Homo sapiens: one gene and its partner. The protein of the gene in region 2 purifies or fractionates together with the protein of the main gene of each other region. This does not show direct contact. Each region holds a gene or a part of one and is shown on either strand. Other genes may lie near its edges.

What was found.
Region 1: the proteins of DAW1 (region 2) and KMT5A purify together in Homo sapiens (affinity purification with mass spectrometry; one large-scale study listed by BioGRID and IntAct). This does not show direct contact.

Annotation. Positions count from the first base shown.
Region 1 is NC_000012.12:123,393,884-123,397,701, reverse strand, and holds part of KMT5A (N-lysine methyltransferase KMT5A), read right to left. Parts: intron 2,656-3,818; coding exon 2,436-2,655; intron 1,358-2,435; coding exon 1,270-1,357; intron 1-1,269. UniProt on the Homo sapiens protein: Protein-lysine N-methyltransferase that monomethylates both histones and non-histone proteins. Specifically monomethylates 'Lys-20' of histone H4 (H4K20me1).
Region 2 is NC_000002.12:227,888,464-227,892,281, forward strand, and holds part of DAW1 (dynein assembly factor with WD repeat domains 1), read left to right. Parts: intron 1-1,392; coding exon 1,393-1,537; intron 1,538-2,791; coding exon 2,792-2,850; intron 2,851-3,818. UniProt on the Homo sapiens protein: Required for axonemal dynein assembly and ciliary motility in ciliated organs, including Kupffer's vesicle, during embryogenesis. Facilitates the onset of robust cilia motility during development.

The DNA of each region.
Region 1 (3,818 bases), on a different chromosome or scaffold from region 2:
AGAGCAAAACTCCATCTCAAAAAAAAAAAAAAAAAAAAGTGACCTAGCACAGCCTCCCACTGCTGACAAATGTTTTAAACAGCTCATTCTTGGCTGAAAGACATTGCCTTTTTCAGGCAATAAAACCAAAGCTGCTCTCTGTGGGGAAGAAAATGGACCTTTTTAAAAATTTTTTTTAAATGAAGCTTCATCAATTAAAAGAAAAAGAGAAAGAATACTAGACCACTGTGTATCTGCGCATTTAACATCAAGAACGCTGAAGGAGTCCGCATGAGGGCTGAAATGCTGAAACTGCCAAAGCCGGGGTCCCCACCTCTCTGTGTAGGATGCAATCCTGAGCACCTCTCCCAACCCGGTGGTCACTGTGGGGGTGAGGGAGAGCAGAGGGGCAGCCCCAGGTGTCCCTGAGGGGGAAGAGCAGAGGGACCTGCCATGCCCTGCGTTTCCTTCACAGAAAGGCAATAACCACACCTCACTGCAGCAAATATTGACTGCCTGCCGCATAGCTCAACCCTCTGCAAACATGGCAGCGGAGGCCCGCATAGGCCAGCTGGCCTTCCAGCCGGTGCTGCTCACTGGTCTGCAGGCTCCTAGTATGGCAGCAGCGTGGGAAAGAGCAGACGGGAGTGACAACACTGAGGAAGCAGAGGTGGCGATAGTAACAGTTAGCTGGCACTTACTGAGTGCCAAGCATGGTTCTAAGGGTTCCTCTTGCATGACCACATTTATTGAATGCTCACCACAGCTCTAGCAGGTACTACATTATTGTACCATTTTACAGACTGGAGAGCCAAGGCATGGACAGGGTAAGTGACTGGCCCAAGGCTACGCAACCAGCAAGTGGCCCCAAGCCACTGCTGTTTAACACCCTGGGCCACAACATGGAAACTTCCAGAAAACAGACAAGAAAAGCCTCTGAAAGAACAGGCAGCCTTTCCCACAGTCCCAGGCTCCCAATGGCTCTGCCAACAAGTCCTGGAAAATCCACCTTCAGAGTCACACCTGGCTTTCCCTGCCACATGCTACAAGTCACAAGGTTCCTTCACACAAGTGTCTTAACCAAGCCCTGCAGTGACCCCAGCAGAAAGGCAGGACAAGCTTTGTGAGGATCCCCGATAGATCCAGGAGAAAACCAAGTCCAGAGGGGCCAAGAGACTTGCTCCAAGATGACGAAAACAAGGCTGAGGACACACACATACGCACACGCCAAGCACTGCTTGGTGGGCCACCCTGCCCCTCCACAAACTGGAATTTAAAGCACGTGACTACCTGCAGCTCGGCTTTGCTCTTCCTGGAGCTCCTTCGGACAGGGTAGAAATCCGTAAGTTTGCGATTCTGTTGCGTTTTTCCTTGAGCTCTGGGTAAGAGGGGAAGAGGAGAAAATAAATATCAGGACTGAAAACCTGGAGGCACACAGCTCCTTAGAAGGCACACACCGAGGAGGCACACAGCTCCTTGGAGATGATGTCACTTAAACACCTTTGTCCACTGGAGCCTGCAGGTCACTCAGTCACCTGCCCATGAGGGCCTCAGAGGAGTTTCAAAGACGGGCTGCTGGCTGGGCGCAGTGCCTCATGCCTGTAATGCCAACACTCTGGGAGGCTGAGGCGGGAGGATCACTTGAGCCCAGGAGTTCAAGACCAACTCAGGCAACACAGCAAAACCCCGTCTCTAAAAAAAGGAAAGAAATTAGCCAGGCATGGTGGTGCACACCTATGGTCCCAACTACTCGGGAGGCTGAAGTAGGAGGATCACTTGGTCCTGAGAGGTTGAGGCTGCAGTGAGCTACTGCACTCCAGCCTGGATGACAGAATAAGACCCTGTCTCAAAAAACACAACAGTCGGGCATGGTGGTTCACGCCTGTAATCCCAGGACTTTGGGAGGCTGAGGCAGGCAGATCACGAGGTCAGGAGTTTGAGACCAGCCTGACCAACATGGTGAAACCCTGTCTCTAATAAAAATACAAAAATAAGCGGGACATGGTGGCATGCACCTGTAATCCCAGTTACTCAGGAGGCTGAGGCAGGGGAATCGCTTGAACCCAGGAGGTGGTGTTTGCAGTGAGCCGAGATCGCACTATTGCACTCCAGCCTGGGCAACAAGAGACTCTGTCTCAAAAAAAAAAAAAAAAAAACACAAAACACCAATCACCAAAAAAGACAAACAAAAAAAATAAATTTAAAAAACAAAGGCTGCTTATGCTGGGGTGGGTAAGGAGGGGAGGAAGGAGAGGCTCTTGAACTCTGGACCCATGCCAGATCCAGAAACTGACAAACAGTGGCATCCCTGCTGATGACTCGGGGCATCTGAGTCTTTGACATGAGAGAGGCTGAGAGGTGGCCACTGAACCCCCATGGGCACCTGAGCAGGCTTCCCTGGCATCAGAGGAACCAAACTGCTCCACGTTAGGAAGAGGACTGAATGGGGCACTTACTTTTTTCGGGGGGCCTGTTTGCCCTTGATGGGCTTTTTCAGGGCTTGCTTGGCGATGGCTGCATTGGTGGAATCACAAGATGAGGGTGGAGTTTTTGGAGGTTCTGCTGCTTCAGATTTTTGGTTTGGAAAAGGTACCAGGGGACCTTTCCTGGCGTCTTTGATCTTCTGTTCCTCGGACTTCATGGCGCTCCGTACTGCGTTCCCAGCATTTCTTTTCTCTGCAGGCGGAGGTGGGGGAAAGACGGGTTTATTCTGTACTGTCTCTCAATTTCCAGACGACCAGCTGCATTCTAAGACAAGCTTTGAGAAGACAGGATCCTGGGTTTGTCAGGCAGGAGTGCCCTTGGCCTGTTAAGCCCCGTGTCCGCTATGGGCTATGACAGGGGGAGTGCCTAGCTCCAGCTCGATTTTTTGACCAAGACACTGGGCAGAGGTTTTAGGCTTTTGCATCTTGACGTGGGAGATAGAGAGCCTGTGAGGGAGAGGCACCAGAGACGGAGACGCTGGCAGGGTGCTTGATCAATAGCTTTCAGGAATCAGGTTGCAGACTCAGATCAAAAGCTCCATTCCTGAAGGCTGGGACAGCATTAGGGGACAGGAGTAAGGTGACAAAGCAGAAACTCTTCCCCAAGAGCTGCCTGGCACCCTTCATTTCAGACTCCGAAGAAAAAGAAGGTCCCCTTCTAGTGGGGTTGAAGCCCCAGGTTCACAGCAGTTCTCAGCATGGTGCCCCAGCAGACTGGCCTGGGTATCGGGAGACACACTGCAATGATCTGTCACTTAAAACACTTGTGGAGTGACAGTGTTGGAAAACTGCTTACCTTTTTAAAAAATGTTTTACTTTTAAATAACTAAGTAAATAGGCTGGACACAGTGGCTCCTGCCTGTAATCCCAGCACTTTGGGAAGCCGAGGCTGGCGGATCACCTGAGGTCGGGAGTTCAAGACCAGCCTGGCCAACATGGTAAACCCCATCTCTACTAAAAATACAAAAATTAGCCAAGTGTACTGGCGGACACTTGTAATCCCAGCTACTCAGGAGGCTGAGGCAGGAGAACTGCTTGAACCTGGGAGGCGGAGGTTGCAGTGAGCTAAGATCATGCCATTGCACTCCAACCTGGGCGAAAGAGTGAGACTCTGTCTCAAAAAAAAAAAAAAAAAGAAAAAAAAATTAAGTAAATAGTACGCTGCTCACAGATATAAAATGGTGCAGCCACTTTAGAAACAGTTTGACATTTTCCCAAAAAGTTAAACACAGAGTTACCATATGACCCAGCAATTTCACTCCTAGGCATCTATTCCAGAGAATTAAAAACATATGTCCCCAAAAAAATCTATGCAGGAACGTAACAGTTTATTTGTAATAGCCAAAAAGTGGAAAC
Region 2 (3,818 bases):
CTGGAAGAGCTCAGGAGCAAAACTTGCCAGCTAGAGGAGTGCCTCACAGGGAGAAACGGCCAGGCTCTTGCTCTGCCCCTGCTCAGCTGTGGACGGAGAGCCACCAGAGAAGAGGCAGCCCTGGCCTGGAATGCCAAGGTACAGCCTGAAAGAGCTGCAGCTAGAAGCTGTCAGGCAACAAAGCTCCAACCCTGACTCTGGGCTTGATTCTTTCTTAAAGGTGGGGGAATCTGCATAGTGCATCTTCTGGACACGTGTGTGACATGATTTGTGAAATGGCTCTTTTTTGGATGCTTCATGGTGTATATACATTGATACCTTTTTTTGAACGAATATTATTCTGTGCCAGCAACATTTTTCAGAATTTCTATGAATTATTTGAATGCTAGAGAAAATTTGAATCTATCTGTATATTTTTCAGACCAGTTATCTTTCAGGGAAACAATATTTTAGTCTATAATAAATATTAATATTAGTCTTATGATGCTTTAAATTTATGGTTAGGCATTTTTCTCTTTTCCTAAAAATATTTTAAATCTAATCTTTCTGAACCTCAGTTTCTTCATCTCTAAAATAATTATGATAAAAGCATTACATTAGCAGATTGTTACAGGATTAAATAAGAGAACATATGTAAAGTGAAAAGTATGCTGCTGGGAACATTCAATACATGTTCATTCAAAAGAAACAGGAAAGAAAGAAAAAGAGCTCATGTTCAGAACTAGTATGGACTAGGCCTTCCTAGGTGTCTTCATTCATTTTGTGCTGCCATAAAAAGAAAGACCTGAAACAGGGTTATTTGTTTCTCGTAGTTCTGACTGAGAAATCCAAGATCAAGGCCCCTACAAGTTTGGCATCTGATGAGGGCTGCACTCTGCTTCCAGGATGGCACCTTGATGCTGCGTCTTCACATGGCAGAGGGCAGAAGGGCAAAAGGGATGAACTCTCTTTGTCAAGCCTTGTTATCAGGGCTTCTAATCCCATTCAGAAGGGCTCCACCATTGTGACTTAATTACCTATTCAGGCCGCACCTCTTAATGCTGTGACATTGGTGAACATGTTTCAGCATGAATTTTAGAGCGGACGCAAACATTCAAACCACAACACTAGGTGAGAACATTAGACTCTTGGCACACCCTCCATGAAACAAGCCTTAGCTTTGGAAAAATATGTTGTAGAAAATCCAAGCTTCTTGCTTTCCTGCCATCATCTATTTACTGATTTGTATGATCCTCCCCGCCCCACCCCCAGATATCTCTTGGGAAAGATAATGGTGTTTTTGACATTTTATAAATGTGCTTCATGAAGCAATACAATCAATTCTTCATGTAATATAGGTATATGCAAATTTTGACATAAAATAAAAGAAACTCTTTTTTGGGTGTATTTCAGCACTGATGTCAGTGCGTTAGTAGAAGAAATCCAGAAGGCAGAACCTCTACTCACAGCTTCACGAACAGAGCAAGTCAAACTTTTGATACAGAGGTTGCAAGAGAAACTCGGCCAGAACAGCAATCACACGTTCTATCTTTTTAAGGTAATGGATTTAAAAACAATCAGATAGAAGAATTTCAGTGAAATGATTGATATTTTATTAATTTTTCTTTCCCTAAAAATATTTTTTCATGAAAAAGGCATGTCAGTGATTGATTGTAGTGCCTCACATATGTTTGCTAAGATTGTCCCAATAATTATTTGTTAAATGAATGAGTGAAATCCAAAACACTTATTCCTTGAGAGGTTAAATAAAGATTTCAGCTCTTCATATAATGATAAATTTAAAGGGTTATTATTATTAAGATAGTTTTAAGTTATGGAATAACTAAAGCTTTTTTTCTAGTTAAAGTAACGTTAAGAAGTTGTGTTTTATGACAAATCAACATTTCGTATTTTCTGCTTTCATGTGAACTAAACCATATTTCAGTAAATTATTTATTTGTATGACATATAATTTTAATGTGATGTAAATATGCTTTTTAAATAGTTTTTTTGATGATTAAATATAGCAAATATAGTCGTTTAGTACTTCAAGGAAAGCTTTTAATTTTCCTTTGTCATTACCTTAGAATTACTTCATATTACACTGCTTTTATCTTTTATGATTTAAATATAATTATGATAGTAACATATAATTATTAGTTATAGACTCACCTGATACAAAATATCCAGGCATTCGTTTCTGGAAGAGGATGTTATAGTCTTGTAACATTTCTTTGTCCAGTAGGTGGCACTGTTTAATTTCAAATATGAGCTGTATAACTAGCGTGTCTCAATTTATTCTCCAAAGGGAACATTTTTGATGGTGAAAGTAGATGCTATTCATAGTTACATTTTGGTAACAGACATAACTTGGACTGTCCCAGCCCAGCCAATCACTCTTAATAGATTGTCCAATTTATGTATATGCATTCAATAAATATTCATTAAACATTCACTGTATGTTAGATGTTGTAGGGATTGAAAGATAAGGAAGACATATTCTGACACTAAAGGAGCTTCAGGATTCATAAAGTCATAATACATTGTCAAATCTTTATTGAAACATATTTAGTGTATTTCCTACATACCCAGTTTATACATGTATACAAAACCACATGCCATATGTAAAAGAAAATGTTACAAATTAGTGCTATCAATAAGATGCCACATAGCACTGTCTAAAGGTAAATCAGATATTGCCTGTTTCTGATGTATAATTAAGAAAAAATTGAATGTCTTCATTGGTTTGAAGTTATAACTAACAAATTTAATTTGGTTTGAGTCTAAAAAATGGTGTTTTCTTTCACTGAAGGTTCTCAAAGCACATATATTGCCACTGACTAATGTTGCACTTAACAAATCGGGCTCATGGTAAGATTCTCTTTTTATGTCTAATTTTTAGCAGTGAAACAAATTTCTGTGTTTATTTATCAAAGATTCCAGTTAGATAAGTACATAATATATTCATTTTTCTGATTTCAGTACTCCCTTGGATACTGAGGAGAAATATAAACCCTTTCTCCCACTCTTCTAATCTGAGTTTTCTGTCGTATTTGTGCTGCAGTGAATGGGAGGCATATTGGGTTCTCAGCAAATGTAGCTACTGAAGAACTCAACTCAGGAATGAGTCGGGCAGGGTGGCCTCATATCTAACTTGGTTGGTTGTGATCAGTCTATTCAGAGCAGGCACTTTCCATCTAGGTCAGTGATTTGGGGTATGGCAAACAGCAGCTTCAAGTCTCTGTTGAGAGCATGGCTGTGATCAGCTTGGGAGCTGACGTGCTAGGTAGGAGAGATGAGGGAGAAGTCTCGTCTTGACCTACAGACATAAAATAAACACAAACTAGACATAAAATAAGCAGTTTGCTAAGGCTTCCATAATAAGGTAGCACAAACTGAGTGGCTTACACAACCAAAATGTATTGTGTCACAGTTGGGGAGGTTAGAGGTCAGAGGTCAAGGTGTCATCAGGGTCAGTTCCTTCTGAGGCCTTGGGAAAGAAGCTGTTCCACAGCTCCTGTAGCTTCTGGTGGTTTGCTGGCAATCTTTGGTGTGGAGAAGCATCACCCTGAGCTCTGCCCTCATCTTCACATGGTTTTCCCTGTGCATGTCTGTGCCTATATGGCCTGTTCTTATAAGGATGTATTGAACTAGGGCCCACCCTACTGCGGCATGATCTCATCCTAACTTAATAATTTTTTTTTTTTGAGATGGAGTTTCACTCTTGTTGCTCAGGCTGGAGTGCAATGGCACGATCTTGGCTCACTGCAACCTCCAGCTCTAGGGTTCAAGCAATTCTCCTGCCTCAGCCTCCTGAGTAGCTGGGATTACAGGTGCCT